Homo sapiens: one gene and its partners. The protein of the gene in region 1 interacts with the protein of each later gene in a pairwise test. Each region holds a gene or a part of one and is shown in the gene's direction. Other genes may lie near its edges.

The links.
Region 2: the proteins of CTXN3 (region 1) and KLRC1 interact in binary tests that used the Homo sapiens proteins (3 or more experiments, as listed by UniProt).
Region 3: the proteins of CTXN3 (region 1) and ADGRG3 interact in binary tests that used the Homo sapiens proteins (3 or more experiments, as listed by UniProt).

Annotation. Positions count from the first base shown.
Region 1 is NC_000005.10:127,644,694-127,652,122, forward strand, and holds the start of CTXN3 (cortexin-3), read left to right. Parts: upstream 1-4,388; 5' UTR 4,389-4,695; intron 4,696-7,049; exon of another isoform or gene 7,050-7,128; intron 7,129-7,429.
Region 2 is NC_000012.12:10,445,528-10,450,418, reverse strand, and holds the end of KLRC1 (NKG2-A/NKG2-B type II integral membrane protein), read left to right. Parts: intron 1-451; coding exon 452-505; intron 506-1,030; coding exon 1,031-1,182; intron 1,183-2,786; coding exon 2,787-2,887; intron 2,888-3,756; coding exon 3,757-3,868; 3' UTR 3,869-4,391; downstream 4,392-4,891. UniProt on the Homo sapiens protein: Immune inhibitory receptor involved in self-nonself discrimination.
Region 3 is NC_000016.10:57,685,265-57,689,878, forward strand, and holds the end of ADGRG3 (adhesion G protein-coupled receptor G3 isoform 1 precursor), read left to right. Parts: intron 1-378; coding exon 379-662; intron 663-3,087; coding exon 3,088-3,197; coding exon of another isoform or gene 3,198-3,423; 3' UTR 3,424-4,114; downstream 4,115-4,614. UniProt on the Homo sapiens protein: Adhesion G-protein coupled receptor (aGPCR) for glucocorticoid hormones such as cortisol, cortisone and 11-deoxycortisol.

The DNA of each region.
Region 1 (7,429 bases):
CTCCTTTCCACCATTCTACAAGTATAAATATCAGAAATGGAAATCGGGTTTCCATGATTTTTTTTAAACAAGCATTTTTTAACTGCTTCATATGATATTTTTCTCCTCTGGGTGTTTTCAAAATTGATTTATCGGTGGAAGGATTTTCAGTTCCAGAATTGTGTTAGGTATTAAAGTCGGGCTAACAGGTCAGTTATTCCCAGGTACCTTCTATTTCATTTTCTCAATTATCCTAATGTTCTAAGCTGCTCAATCCTCAAACTGTCCATGCAGTAGTTTCCTTTCTAAAACGTAGCTGTTGAACAGAGAAAGAAGAGTTCCAAAATGACAGCATAAAAATATAGAGGAATGATTTGTATAAACTAATTGGCACTTTGTATGATATTTTAAAGGCATTAAGTATTTCAAACCCATTAAGAAAATTGTTATTATTGTACAAGTCACTTTAAAAGAATAAATTTACCCACCAGGCTGTTAGAGCCAAAGTATTTCCTTTGAACAGTGAATAATCCATAGTGATGTCCTTATACTTTTATACTGTAATTAGAATTAATAACTTAAATGTTGCAAATGTTGCTTCTAAATAGAACTACTGCTGTGTATTTTGTGAAGCTGCTCCTTCTTAGGGTTGGAGATCAGCTTTTTGGCAGCATGATTCATCACCTAGCTATATGCTTTGTTCTTACTTATACAGGAAAGGATTAACAAAATTTTATAGGGCAATCTATAATCCTCACAAGTATTAAATTCTGTCAGTGTTTTTTTTCTTGCACATATATTTCCACTTCGTTGCAGCATTCTCGTCTTCATTTTGAGTGCTTCTCTATTCTAGATGTATCAGCTACTAATTGAGCATTTAGCATTAAAACAGATGTGATATATACAGAAATGCATTCAAGAAAAGATCAAACAAGGAGGCTGCCAATCTGCAGTTGGACTTTAACCTGCTTGCTTTTAATAGCTCTTAAATATAGATCCCAATGTATAGGCTTGGTGTGAATATCATTAAACCTTTCCCACTGTTCCCTTAAGCTTTGAATGTTCACTGATCTGTGAAGATAGCTGAATGGATAAATAAACTTAGACCTGGCAAATCAGAGAGATTTTAGAAATAGAGCTAATCTTGACTTTTTTTTTTTTAAAGCAAAGCTTTATGTTGCCTGATATATTTTTTTTAAAACAAGAAGACAGAAATAAAAATAACACACATAAACTGACTAGCACTTTTTTAAAATGAATTAAAAAGTGGCGGGGTTATTAACATGTATTCTAGCCTGCTTGTCTTTCCACCTTCATTTCCCATTTGCTGGTAGTTGCATGAATTTTATTTGGCCTGAACCCCAGAGTGCAATAGAGAGGCGATGAAGAGAGAAGGCACTAAGGGAGAGGGGCCTAAGGGCTGAGATATATGTTCCCGCCACTCATTTTAATCCATGTGTTCTTTTTCTGAACCTTCCTTTCAGTGAGTGTTCAGCTGTGTTCAATGTTGCCAAAAAGCAAGGAAGATGAACACTAAAAGGACTCTTTGGCTTGAGGCAACCAGAAGCCACTAGTGACCTTGTGAAATCAGGTCCTGTAGAAAGGTGAGGAGACAGTTCAGATGTCTGCTGGGTGAGCCATGAAGGGGGAGGTTGGGAAGGTTAGGAATTGGAATTTAGTGGAAGTGGGCCAGTCTGTCAAGAAGCTCAGCAACCATCGCTAGAAGTGGAGCTCCTCAGGGCCCTGTTTACCAAGGAATCTCCTAGAGTTGTTCAGTGCACAACCTGAACAAACAGAAGCCAGGACCCAGTATTCGTGTTGTTTATTTTTTGCAACACCTAACACAGAACATATCTGACATTGAGAGCTAATGAATGATCCCTGGATAAGTGAAAGAAAGGACATACACAAAGGAGAGAAGAAAAGATTTTTACAAAGAGTCTATTGATAAGAACCATGTTTATATTTTGAAAGTTATATAGAGTTTTTGTTCAATTTATTTTGAGAATTAGGCAGAGTTAGACAGAAACACAGTAATAATAATAATACAGCCTTGTACTGGCATGAAGACTGATGGCTTATAGTCTTTTTTTCAGATTCATTATCTATTTCTTCATGGAAAAGTGCATCATAGGACATTTAGGAAAGAATTGCAAATTAAAGAACATTAAAGGTGAGGCTTGAAATAAAAATGTAGAAGTTTTTAAAGTAGATTTCTAACTAATAATAACTCATGATGTTGTGTAACTAAAGAGAAAGACTAAGTTACACCCAGGAGTGGCCCTGGATCAGAATGGGTAAGTAGAAGCACAGCATATATAGCCATTTATACATCATAAAATCATCCTGTTTCATCACAATTCCGTGTGTATCTGAGCTGTGTACAGCTCGGTATAGTATTCTAGGCTTCCTATTTAATGTTGCACCAGAGAGCAGAAATTTTAAGAATTCAGAGAAGAGATATAAAGATTATTAAAAGCGAAAGAAATAGGATCTAATATAAAATGTTCAAATGGAACTTTGGTAAACCCTTATTCATTGTTTTAGAATTCATGATGATTCACATAATATAGCTGCATAAGGGGAAGGGCTGATTTTAATAATTTCCATTATAATTATCTTTAAGAAGAAAGGTTTAAATTTAGCTCCAAGCATAACACCAGATCTTCATCAAATACTCTTTGGTTTATCTAGTTCGGCTTCTCTGAAAGGAAAGGGCATTCTAACAAAATTTTGGAGTGGTTAGTGCCTGACTTTTTGCAGCAAGGACAGAATGAAAAGAAATGCGCCAACACATTTAGACTAAGTAAGCAGCAGAGGAGTTTGTTTAAACAGAGGTTGTCAGAGGAAGTTATGGCATCTACTTCTCTGGAGACTTTTTAAAATAGGCCAGGCACTCATCTCTCTGGGATGGTTTCAGCCTGCAGAGTAGCTAGAGGACAGCCCCAGGCCTTTTCAGGTTCCCTTCTCCCTCTACGAGTCTGTAGGCTAAACCATATCCGAGAAGGCCTCTTTGGCAGGGTAAGCTACAGTCACCCAGGCTCATGTCTAACTATGATATTTTCTCACCGCATGGAATGATAATTATAGGAAGGAGGGTGAGGTCGGAAAGATTCCTCAACCACACTCTGTTGGCATTGCCAAAACAGGCACTCCCTCTGCCAGAATTGACTAAATGCAAGAGGGATGCCAGTTAGTACAGGATGATCGTGCTCAGTTGGATTTCATGTGTCCCATTGTCTTACGGTGTGTGGTATGTGTGTGTCTGAAAATAGGGTAAGTAAAATGAATTGGAAAGAAAATTCAGTTAAAAATTAGGAAAACAAATGGGGAAAGAACCTGCATATTGTCTTGAGGTTAGACTCTAACATCAAGCATTCGATCCTAACATTTAGCATTTGATTTGAAAGGTTCCTTTGGGGTCCGAGGCCTATCCTATCCAGGATTGTGGTCCGTTGTGAGCAGATGGGGTTTCCCTCTTAGAAGATGAGCTTGGTTCCAGTTTCCTAGAGCCTTTGGGTAATGGCCGGTTGCTCACAAGAGCTGAGGAGACAGCATAGCTGACAGGCACAGTCAGAGGCAGCTTTAAATATCACGCACCCCATCATTTGGTGGGTGGGTGTGTTGTCGCTAACTGTGCCGCCACTTCAACAAAGAAAGTGGTGAGTTGCCAAAAAACAAGGATGCTCCGTCTTAAGCATTAGGCTGAATTCTTCTTAGAGAAGTGTTTTTTTAATGAAGAATTTTATCCTAAAATATTTTCCAAATTTACTTATCCAACGAAAGTAATTTAAGCATTGTAGCAAGTAACTAGAATCTGCAGAATGAGAACAACTTTCTCTCACAAAAATCAATCTTCTTTATTCATCGAGTGGTCTCAGGTGCCCTGTGTGGGGTGGGGGCTTTCCCAATGCCACAATTATGCAGGCTGCTCAGAGAGACACTGGACCTGGCAACCAACTGCCCAGCTAATTTACAAGCAGGTGACAGGTGGTGAAACTATGATTTTGATATTTTTAAATGGTTCTTTCCTTCCCATAAATGCTGCTTTTTGGAAAGGTCACTTTAGTTTTCTTTAGGAAAATGAGCCTTTTCTCCCTCTCCCAAATGCTAAGTTGATGCCCTTCCCCAGAAGTCTTCCTGTTAATTGAGTTGGCCTGAAGGTCATCAACAATAATCAATATGAAGACTTGCTGCGACGTGCTAATTGACACTCCCAAAGAGGAATAGTGTCAACAATCAATAAAGAGGACAGAGCACTGGTAGATTTATGGCTTTGATTTTGAAAAGGTATAGGAATGCCTGTGATGTTTCCCCACCCCCCAACCCCGTACTCCTTTTGAATGTTAATGCTTTCTTGAAGATGATTTCAGACACACTGCTAGGATACTGCCTCTACTCGCTGAAGCAGAATCCTCTGAAGAGTTGCTGAGGCAGAACTGAAATCATGGCTCACCTCAAAGAAGCAGCAGTATTGGCCGTTAATGATGCCTCACACAGAAAGACGATGCTCCTTTAACTCGGGGTTTTAATGGGAAGTTTCTAAGCCTGAAACAACAGCTTTAGACCTGGGGTGTGCCATCAGCTGCCTTGCAGCTACCACTGTCTACTGCTTTCACACAGCGTGGTCGGGAAGAATGGAAACTAAAGAGGCTTGTAACTACCTGTAACTGTTCCACCAGGAAATGGATCAAGTGTTTGTTCAGCCAGAGCCAGGTACTTGACCCAACCTGTATCTTTGACGGGCTAATTAAATGCTTTTCTCTAACTTTACAATTGATGCATGAGCAATCATCGCATACATGCCTTTCGGATCATAGTTGTGAATTTAGATCTAGCTGTTAGATAAGTCTAATTAAACAATTGCTAGATAAAGTTAAGAAGCGAGGGGGTAAAATGTAATGATGCCTTTATTTTTAAAGCATGGTTAAGTTTATAATGTTATTGATACTGGATGAAGAAGTAGTAAAACAGGCTTTTTTTTCTTTCCTAAGCTGCAGTAATTTATTTCTGAAAGCTGTTTGCCCATTATCGTATTTTTTTTTTCAGTCACCTAAAACGTCCAACCTTCCAAAATGTAACAAGGATGTTCTGATTTGTTTACAAAGGATCACAACTCAACCACTCATATTGACAGCGTTGACTGTCCCTGGCTGATAAGCTGTGTGCAGCACTATCCTTTTGAGATATCAGCAAGTAGCCGTTTTCACTATGAAACACACAAAGAAAGACAAAGAAAACCAGGTGGAACAGTAGGGCTTATTATTTGAAGTTAAAAGTTCCAGTTCGTTAAGGGTGCCTTCTGATACCACCGATTCCTGACTAGGCACCCTCATGGTGTTTTCTGATGTTCTCAGCTAGGCAGTAGCCTTGCCCTGCAGTCCCTTAAAAATTCCTCAAGCAGATATTAAGAGGAAGATGAAGATGGGGAAGAAGTAAAGCTGAGATTGGGGCTGAGGCTGAAGACAAAGGTCTCCTGCTGACCCAGAGCTTAAAAGCAGCAGTGAGTTGAGAATAACAGGGTCCACTCCCAGCCCAAGCAGACGTGTCTGCAGGCTGACTTTGCAGAAACAAGCAGAGAACAGACTTCCCAGTGCAGCAGTGGGGGCTGGCAACAGTTCTGAAACTGCCTGTTGACATCTGTAGCTGAAGACATCCTCATGTTTATGAAATCATTGTTCGTAGGCTTTCTAGTAGACTTGAGTCTATGTTTTGAGAGTATAAAATATATTTACCCTTAGCCCCCCTTTGAATTTTGAAGCATCAGGGCTATTGTATTGGAACAGGAGGGCTGTACTTGGAAAAAAATATAGAGATGTTGCCGTGTATATGAGCCAAAAACAAGGGGAGTGGGAGGATTTAAAATCTATGAAACACCTAGAAAGAGCCAGGAAATCTTTACCTGAAGTTCTTTGCTGGTAAGCAAGAGGGCCATGAATTCTTTGAATTTATATGAAATATTTTGTATCTTTGTGTGTATATCCTGAATGCAAGTTACTGTTCACTAGAATAATACACAGAATTTCTAAAAGATTTGTAGGGGAATAATATTTGCTTATGTGGTGATTCTGTTGCTTAGATAACGAGGTGGCTTATACAGATGACTCACAGTTGTGGTGGGGATGGATAATAGGATCATTTGGGAGATTTACACATCTAGGGTGGGTGAGTGGGTTGGAGAATGAAATGTACTTTGAGAGACTACAGTTATACAAACAGGAATGCAGCCCAGGCTTCCTTTAGTGCTAAAAGTAGAGAGGGATTCTATTTAGGCTCAGTATCAGGATGTGTATTACTTGAATCATTCAAAGCCATGTTAACATTTCCACAGTTAACTTCAGAACTGTTGCAGAATAATGCAGCATTTTGAGTAAGTTTGTCTCTGTTGGTCACCGCAAATTCAGTCCTGCCTAGCTAGGCAATTCCGTTCCTGTTAAAGTCTAAAGATTGGTCTCGCTAGTCTGCCAGATAAATATAAATAAGGTTGATAGTATATCTTTGCAGGATAAAGTGTCCTGTCTATCACATGTGAATGGAAACTGGACAAGCCCAAGAGTGTCCTTGCTCAATGGATGGGCTGTTTTGACACCTACTTTTGAAACCACGTCAAGTCACGTAACTAGGTTTCTGATCCAGAAGTTTTAAAAATTAGGTACTGCAATTATGTGGTTTAGGAATATTTAAAATACAGACAGCATTGCTTCACTGCACCCTACAGGCCGTTAACACCTGAGGGATGACACCTTCAATTCATTCCAACGTGCCAGTGAAAAACTAGGGATCTACCATCATTTGGCGTTGGGGTGGTAGGGGGTGGTGCTACCTTTTTGGTAACGATTTTTATAATTCTGGGCAGTTTATTTATAATTTTCATACCTTAGTGTGCTTGATCACATAATAGAAATTAAAAATAAATAACATTTTGCACAAAAATGGTGTAAAAAGAAAACACTCATTCATCCCCACCTACTTATCAAATCCCCACTATGTGCCAGGCAGGACTACACAGGTACTGCAACTATTAATTAGATCATTGCACCCTATTGCAAAAGGGTGGGCTCTTGAGTTGATGACCTGTAGAATCAAGTCCCTGTGTGTGGCTCCACAGAACAAGGTGTCCAATGCACTTAAGTAATTCTGTCGCTGTCACTTAAAAAAAAAAAAGAAAAGAAACATGTCATTGCTTTAAGATACATTTTCTTCAGAGAAAGTATTTTTTCCTTACTGTGAAATTGTATAATGAGATGCTAATGAAATAAAATGTCCAAGGGATCCAAGCCTGAGAAGGGTACATGTTGACATTAATAGTTTTTGTGTAAGACATTTGGATTCAGGATATTTTAAATGGCTGCCCTTCCCCACCAAAAAGTAGATTAGGTAAGAAAGAATTGACCTCTTAAATAAAAGGGTAACTTTCAATTTCTGGCTGATTTTTATATTTCAGATTCCA
Region 2 (4,891 bases), on another chromosome or scaffold:
TTTCATATTTTCAGGGAATAGAGTTCTCATTGTAATGTATATATTTGGACTAAATGTGGAATGATTATTCTGAATTTGTCAAAGAATAAATGAAAGAATAATTGTTGAAAGTATTCGCTTCTGATGCAATCGTATGTATATATTTGGATTTCATAACTCAAAAATATGTTCTAGGAGTCTGAAAAACCTTACTGAGAAATAGAAATTAATTTTTGAAAGTAGTTAAATCAAGAATTATAAGAACTATATGAGATGGTGAAATTTGGTTCTTTAGATCTATGAAATACTTTTCCAAAAAACCACCATTACTTTATCAAATTTTTCTTAAAATCAATTTTATTCCATATTATTCTAACTCTAAATAATACAAAAAAATTCAAACAAAAACTTAAAATTATTATGATTGATTTAGATGCTAATTTTTTTACAAAGATTACTTTAATTTTTCTAGCTACATTAATACAGAGGCACAACAATTCTTCCCTGAATACAAGAACTCAGAAAGGTATATAATAATTTTTAAAGTTTTAATATTGTACAGTTTATTTTTTCTTGATCTTAGGCTGTACAAAAATAAAATTTTGGGTGAAAAATTATAAAATTTGGCAATAAGTGTTCATAAATAAAATTAGAGTAAGGCATTCACTTGTCATCAACTATAAGTAAAATCACTATGCTTTCTTTTTATCTGTTGTGTTCAAATTCTTACTGCTATAATATGATAAGATACAAGTTATTTATTGTTCCTTAAAAATCAGATTAGTTCATTGATTTTTCAAGACATGTATAGAGTGGATTTTTGTTTGCTGGTTTGCTTTATATGGGAACACAATTAGGAGATGAAAGGCTGACCCTTTATTGCGCATGTGTGTATAAGTGACTGGGTATTTTGACACTATATATTTACCAGCCCATGAAGATGTATAGATATGTTGCATACGTATAGGTTTATATGTTTGCAAATATGTGAACTAATTTTCATTTTTAAAAATTCATATTGGTCTAGATAGTAATTCATATCTTTATTTAGCACGTCATTGTGGCCATTGTCCTGAGGAGTGGATTACATATTCCAACAGTTGTTACTACATTGGTAAGGAAAGAAGAACTTGGGAAGAGAGTTTGCTGGCCTGTACTTCGAAGAACTCCAGTCTGCTTTCTATAGATAATGAAGAAGAAATGGTAAGATGTAAATGTTTTAAACACTTTATGAAAAGCTTCTTTCGGTCGATAATATATTTGTAGAAATCATCCATATGTGTGGGTATATACATTTAGCTTATATGTTTTCAAGTTTATGTAGTATTTAATTGATTGACTTAATAATGTTTTAAAATTCATATACTGCTAATGTACTTTTGATTATTTTCAGTTTTTGCTTTTCATGGAAAACCATGCTTCTAGAAATGCTTTCAATCCACAATACATTTTGCTATCTAATTTTATCGGGCATGATGTGATCTGGTCATGCAGATTGATCACAAAGTGAATGAACTCCTGTGATACAAGTCAGATCATGAAATAAAAGTTTCCAGCTCTAGTAGTTCCACCCCTGTGTATGCCCTCATCACTTATCCTGACTCCTCTCCAAAACACTGTCTTGACTTTTAATGTTATAAATAACGTTTACCTGCTTTTGAATTTATATAAAGGGAATCATACACTGTGAATTTCATGTCTGTGTTTTTCACTCCTATCTGATATTTATGCAATTCCTCCATATTATTGCGGTTATCTGTCGTTTATTACTGTTCACTGCTGTAGTATGTACAAAGAACACTAAGAATCCATTCAATCCTGTGTCTCTGGATGGGGAAGTGAGTCTCATGCCCTCAGGGACAAAGAGGACCCTGGGTGGTGCACTGGTAGTCATTGGGTTCCTTTGCTGATCCTCCTCACCCACATCCACTCTGGTGTCTCTTGGTATGAGAAGGAAGTACTTCCTCTGGCTGTATTGGTAGCAAGTCTCCTGGTAGATCATCCTTGCCAGTGGTACCAGCCTTGCCTGTTGTTGCGGAGGGGACTCCCCTTCAATACAGAACAGGAGTGAGCTTTGCTGGGCCTCCTCCTATTGCCAGGTTGGGTGTAGGGAAACAGCAGGCCTAGGTCACCTTCTTCTGTCGTGTGGAGGACTTAACATGCTCGCTCGGACACTTGGTTGATCCCTGATGCTAGGGTCCCAGACAATTTCATCTTTCTCTTTCCACCTTTCAGAGTTCTCCATTGCTTTTGTCTTTCATTAATCCCAGAGTTTATAGTTGTTTTTAGTAGGGAGTAGCAGAGAGAGACGAGTCTACACCACCTGGTCAGGATCACTGTTATTCCACCAAAACCAAATCAGATAAAAAAGTGAGGGCTTATCTAGTTAAAGAATGGTGTGGTACCCAGAAAACCCAATATGTAGCTTCCATGTCATTTATTTCTGAATCACAACCTCTAATTTCTCTTCTAAATCTCCAACTCTGAGAAATATAGCACAAAAATAGTTTGATTTAGTCACAGTATCTGGAGGAATGAATGCACAGTATCAGGAGACTTATTTAAATCCTTACTGTGTTTATTCAGTCAATTGGGGTAACTATTATAATGCAAGAATTAAAACTTCTTTATTAACATGAGAAGAATAAAAGTACTAAGTATAAACATTGACGGGTTCATTTATATCAAAATTATAAACATTTATGAAAGTTTTTGGCACTGCAAATAGTGGTTTTCAAATTTAATATATTGTTTTTGTAATGTTTTCATAATTATTATTTAAGTGAAAATTCTTTCTTTTCTTTTAGAAATTTCTGTCCATCATTTCACCATCCTCATGGATTGGTGTGTTTCGTAACAGCAGTCATCATCCATGGGTGACAATGAATGGTTTGGCTTTCAAACATGAGTAAGTTGTTTTGTATGGCGCTATATAACAATATATATATAAAGGATAAATTCAGAAGAATAATATGAATAAATCTATGTGGAATCATAGAGATGAAGAAAGATGTGGAAAGTTAGTGAAATGCTGACATAAATATTTTACAATAGACCATAGTAGTCCATATATTTCAACCGCTCATTGGTCAGCTAGTAACCTTCTTGATTATCAGGTGTCCAATCTTTGGCTTCTGTGGGCCACATTGGAAGAAGAAGAGTCTTGGGCCACACATAAAATACACTAACACTAACGATAGCTGACGAGCAAAAAAAAGAAAAAAAAAATCACAGAATGTTTTAAGAAAGTTTACGTATATGTATTGGGCCGCATTTGAAGCTGTCCTGGGTCACATGCGGCCCGTGGGCAGCGAGTTGGACAAGCTCGAGCTGGACTATCAGGGAATTGCAGTGCTTGTTTTTATTAAAAAGCCACACTTACTTTTTTTCTTAAGAATATCCTCAAAGCACAAGAGTAGTGCTGTTGGCATATTGCTATAATTTTGTTATTAGTAGTTATTGTTGTCAATCTCTTATTGTGCCTAATTTATAAATTAAATTTTATCACAGTTATGAATGTGTAGAGAAAACATAATCTCTCTATAGGTTCTGCACTATCTGCCGTTTCAGGCATCCACTGGAATCTTGAAACATATCCCTCGTGGATGAAGGGGGACTACTCTGTTGAGTGTTCAGAATAATGACTCTTACTAATATTATGAAAAATTTAATTACCCTTTTCCATGAAATTATTTTCTTACAGTACATGGAAAATGCTTTCGTCTCATGAATCATTTGCTTAAAATGTAACAGAATATGGATTTTTCTCCATTACAGGATAAAAGACTCAGATAATGCTGAACTTAACTGTGCAGTGCTACAAGTAAATCGACTTAAATCAGCCCAGTGTGGATCTTCAATAATATATCATTGTAAGCATAAGCTTTAGAGGTAAAGCGTTTGCATTTGCAGTGCATCAGATAAATTGTATATTTCTTAAAATAGAAATATATTATGATTGCATAAATCTTAAAATGAATTATGTTATTTGCTCTAATAAGAAAATTCTAAATCAATTATTGAAACAGGATACACACAATTACTAAAGTACAGACATCCTAGCATTTGTGTCGGGCTCATTTTGCTCAACATGGTATTTGTGGTTTTCAGCCTTTCTAAAAGTTGCATGTTATGTGAGTCAGCTTATAGGAAGTACCAAGAACAGTCAAACCCATGGAGACAGAAAGTAGAATAGTGGTTGCCAATGTCTGAGGGAGGTTGAAATAGGAGATGACCTCTAACTGATAGAACGTTACTTTGTGTCGTGATGAAAACTTTCTAAATTTCAGTAGTGGTGATGGTTGTAACTCTGCGAATATACTAAACATCATTGATTTTTAATCATTTTAAGTGCATGAAATGTATGCTTTGTACACGACACTTCAATAAAGCTATCCAGAAAAAAAAAAAAAGCCTCTCCTGGGATTATTTGTGACTGCATTTATTCTCTAAAGTAATTTTTAAAGATTAGCTTCTTTATAATATTGACTTTTCTAATCAATATAAAGTGTTTCCTTCAATGTACTGTGTTATCTTTAATTTCTCTCTATTGTATTTTGTATTTTGGGGGATTGAAGTCATACAGAAATGTAGGTATTTTACATTTATGCTTTTGTAAATGGCATCCTGATTCTAAAATTCCCTTTAGTAATTTTTGTTGTTATAAATAGAAATACAACTGATGTCTGCATTTTGATTTTATATCTACTTATTCCACTGATTTTATATATGTAAATCTATTATGTCAACTATTGATTTATTTCTGGGTGTTCTATATAACGAGCAATTTTATCTGCACATGATCACACTTTTATTTTTTTAATCTATATGCTATAACGTAGTTTTATTTTCATTTATTTTCACTGGCTAGGGTTTTATACCCATAGTTGAATAGAAGGTACAATCAAAGTTC
Region 3 (4,614 bases), on another chromosome or scaffold:
CACAAGCCCATCTAATTAGCGGTCAGTTACTATCCTTCAGGAGGGCATCCACAGAGCTGCCAGGTGTATGATTTTATAGGAGAAGCAGAAATCTAGGTGTTTATACCAAAGCTTCTGATTTTAAAGGCGGCCACTAATTCCGTTTTTTTCACAATGTAATATGGGGCAAATGAAACATGTCTTTGAGGTCACTTTGGCATTAAAGAGACACCAGACTGGAGCCAGGTGACGGCCCCTCCCACAGCGGGAGAGCCAGGGATTGATGGGTGGAAATGGGAGAGGCACCTTCACAGACAGAAAAGCTCAGCCAGGGGACTTCCTGGGTTTGCTGGCCAGAGGTACCACTCCCAGTCCCACCACAGCTGCCCCCTCCTCCAGATGCTGGTTCCGTGAAGGGACAACCATGTACGCCCTCTATATCACCGTCCACGGCTACTTCCTCATCACCTTCCTCTTTGGCATGGTGGTCCTGGCCCTGGTGGTCTGGAAGATCTTCACCCTGTCCCGTGCTACAGCGGTCAAGGAGCGGGGGAAGAACCGGAAGAAGGTGCTCACCCTGCTGGGCCTCTCGAGCCTGGTGGGTGTGACATGGGGGTTGGCCATCTTCACCCCGTTGGGCCTCTCCACCGTCTACATCTTTGCACTTTTCAACTCCTTGCAAGGTGAGGCCCCTGCACCAGGGAGGTGATGGGCTGTGTTGTCTGTCCCAGGAGGTATTGGGAGGTGGGGAAGAGGGTGGTTTGCAAGACACAGGACTCTGTTCAGGCTAGCTGAAGTCAAGGATGTTGATTTCAAATACTCAGAGCAAGGATCCAGGGCAGCAAAGTTTGGCTGCTGTATTAGTCCGTTTGTGTTACTAGAATACAAAGGAATACTCGAGACTGGGTAATTTATAAAGAAAATGGGGTTAATTGGCTCATGGTTCTGCAGGCTTTAGACAAAGCACAACACCAGTATCTGCTCCTGGTGAGGCCTCAGGAAGCTTCCAATCATGGTGGAAGATAAAGGGGAGCCAGCGTATCACATGGCGAGAGTGGGAGCAAGGGAGTGGGGAGGCACCATGCCGTTTTAAACAGCGAGATCTCGCATGAACTCCAAGTGAGCACTCACTCATCACCAAGGGGATAGTGCTAAGCCATGCATGAGGATCCGCTCCAAGGATCCAATCTCCTCCCCTCAGGCCCCACCTCCAACATTGGGAATCACATTTGGACATGAGATTTGGAAGCAACAAACATCCCAGACATATCAGCTGCCTTCATGGGAGCTGCTACCAGAATCAGAAAAAGCCACCCAAACCAAAGCAGATACGTTCTCTATCTTTTTCCTGGAGCTATGGAGTCTCTCACCTAGTGTCTGTGGAAACTCCTTCATTCTCTCTCCACTTACCCTTTACTACCCATGGCCCCAAATTGTTACCCAACATGGCTGCCGTAACCCTACCTGACCTTGCAAGTTGGGTGTCCATCGTCCATCTCTGGTCCAATCAGCTGCGACCAGAAGGGCAGAATCATGTGATATGATGTCCACATGACATGGATGGGATCTCCAGGGATCTATGGAGGTAGGAAGGAAATGCTTGCTGTATTTGTTACTGGCCCCCGCAGGGCCCTTCCTCTGAGATCCCAGCAAAGGGGTAAGAGCAGTCCATGTGCTATGGTTTATATGTGTTCTCTTTGCTCCTTACATCCACAGCCCAGAGAGGCATCACAGTCTGACTGTGAGAGAAACAGCCAAGACAGGAGTGACGAGACTCAACCTGTTCAGGGAAGTCACTAGAAACCCAGGCGTCCTAGATGCAGCGGGTATAAGCCCCCAAGACCAGGACTGGCTCCCAGCGCCCCATGAGAGATGTGTGGCTTAGTGGCTAGGGCCAGGCAGCCCTGGGTCCAAATCCTAGCCCCATCCCTGACCCAGCAAGTCACTCAGCTCCTTCCGTCCTCATTCATCGCGAAATTGGGATAATCCCGTACTTATCTCACCAGCTTTTTTTTTTTTTTAATTGAGATGGAGTCTTGCTCTGTCACCCAGGCTGGAGTGCAGTGGCACGATCTCAGCTCACTGCGACCTCCACCTCCTGGGTTCAAGTAATTCTTCTGGTTTCAGCCTCCTGAGTAGCTGGAACTACAGGCACATGCCACCATGCCCAGCTAATTTTTGAATTTTTAGTAGAAATGGGGTTTCACCATACTGGTCAGGCTGGTCTCAAACTCCTGACCTCAGATGATCTACCTGCCTCAGCCTCCGAAAGTGCTGGGATTACAGGCGTGAGCCACTGTGCCTGGCCTGCCAGATTTCACAATGAACAATGACAATGCATATGTGGGAACTACTAGGTCTTCAATATGTGGGAACTATATTAATAATCATAGAAATTATGACTGTAAGGCCATCTGAGGCTGTCTCCAGGTGGAGAATCATGAGTCCATGCCTGGAGAATCCCAGGGGTTGATGGTTGGGGAGAAATGAACTTTGAAACTATAGCTGACATCGTTATTCTTTCAGAGGTTACCTTAATATGTAAGCCTGCACACTTCACTCTACTAAGTTTCCACTGGGTCTGAGTTATTCTGTATTTCTCTCTTCCTCTCCAATACAACAGAGCCCTTGGTATACTTGAATTGCCCATTGAACTCTTCTCAATATTTGTCTTGCATATAGAGGTTTAGTTACAGATTTCCTTGAAACATAGAGTTTTTCTAAGTCATGTTCTGTACTTACTATAATTTCTTTCACCCCACACTTTCCCTTTTCCTCTTGCTGGAGTGCCTCCCATAATAATCCTTTATAGAGGGAGTGATGGTTGTTTTGTATGTCTGAAAATTCCTCTATTTTGCTCTTTCTTTTCTGTAATAGGCATAGGTAGATATTTTATTTGAAGGTCTCTGTTTTTCATTTCCAAGATTTCGATTTGGTTCTTTTTTATTTCATTTTTGAAATGGTTGTGAAATGGTTGCATTTTTGCCTTTCCCAGCAGTTCTTGAGTGGTTACGGTGGGTCTCCTCCCTCTCAGCAGCCACCAGCCCAGGCTGCCCCACTCTCTGCCCACCCCTTTCCAGGCTCACCGAGGCCTCTCCTTCCTAACAGGTGTCTTCATCTGCTGCTGGTTCACCATCCTTTACCTCCCAAGTCAGAGCACCACAGTCTCCTCCTCTACTGCAAGATTGGACCAGGCCCACTCCGCATCTCAAGAATAGGAAGGCACGGCCCTGCAATATGGACTCAGCTCTGGCTCTCTGTGTGACCTTGGGCAGCTCCGTGCCTCTCTCTGTACTCCCTCAGTTTCCTTCTCTGTACAATGTGGCTGGGGAGGGAGAGGATGGGACCAGGTTGGACCACGTGGCATCAGAGGTCCCATCCAGATCCAACTATAGGTCCAAGAGTCCACGTAAGCAGGTTTGCAAGGCTCTAAAGTTCCTATAGTCCTGAGACCCCCTGCCAGCAAAGAGTGACAGTCACCTCCATGCCCTGCCCTCATTGCAAAGCCCTCACTCACCTTCTGGTCTCAGCAAGGGAGGAGAGTCTGTTGCTGGCATAGCCCTGGAAGGAGCCCCCAGCCTCTCCCCTCCTCCTCCTTGTCACTGGCCTCCCACAACTCCCCTTCTGGCTGCCTGTAACCTTGAGGGGCATTCAGGAGGCCAGCGTTCCCTCAGGCACTGGGGGTTTGTTTTGGGGGGTGGGAGTTGATCCTCCCACCCAGTCTGCCCCTGGTCTCTGCCCATCCAATCAGAGCCCACCCTCCTGGAAGAGACCCCCGTGTTCAGAGTGCTGGCAGCCCTGCACGTGTCCAGGGACACTGCATTTCAAAGAACCACTGAGTGGGTGAGCTACCTTGGGCAAACCCCCCACTCCTGACTCTGACTGCCACGTGGGTGGCCCGACCTCTGACCTGCTGTCATCGTAGAGGTAGAAAGCAAACAATCTGGGGCTCAGCACACCTGGGGGTGCTCCCACTCATTCAGTGTGTGGGGCCCCTGAGCAGAGGCTGGGCATTGCCACTAGGACCTGAGCTCCTAGAGAACAAGGACCTGGGTGGCCTCGCTTACTGTTCCAGCCCAGGCCAAGCACAGGGTCTGGCTCGTGGCAAACCTTGAATAAATATTTGTTGGCTGAATGAGTGGATGTATGAGTTTGGCACCAGCCTGGCAGATCCCTGAGCCAAGGGGGGTGTCTCAGGCCAGACCTAGGTTGGGCAGGGTACTTCCAGCAGCTGGGGCTCCATGTCACAATCGCATGCAGGTTTCTCAGTAGGAAACAAAAAGAGGCAGAGATAGCAGAGATGGGGTAGAGATACAGAGATGGAGAGAAGGAGAGAGAGACTTAACAGACAGGCTGACACAAAGAGGGAGAACGGTGGCGGAGAGACAGATGCAGAGAGATGGCAGCCCCACGCCGGCTCCAGCGACCCCCCTCCTCGGGGGGAGCAGTGAGTGTTGACATCATTCCCCTCCCTGGAGCCTCACCGCACAAGTCCATCCCTCACTCTACTCACAACTTACCAACCATTCTCCCTACCCGGCCCCCGACCCTCTCCAGGGAGCTCTGTGGACTGTCAAGCCCTGTCTGCAGGTGAGAAGTTACTGTCACTGTTAGGCCTCCCCCAACAGCCCTGGA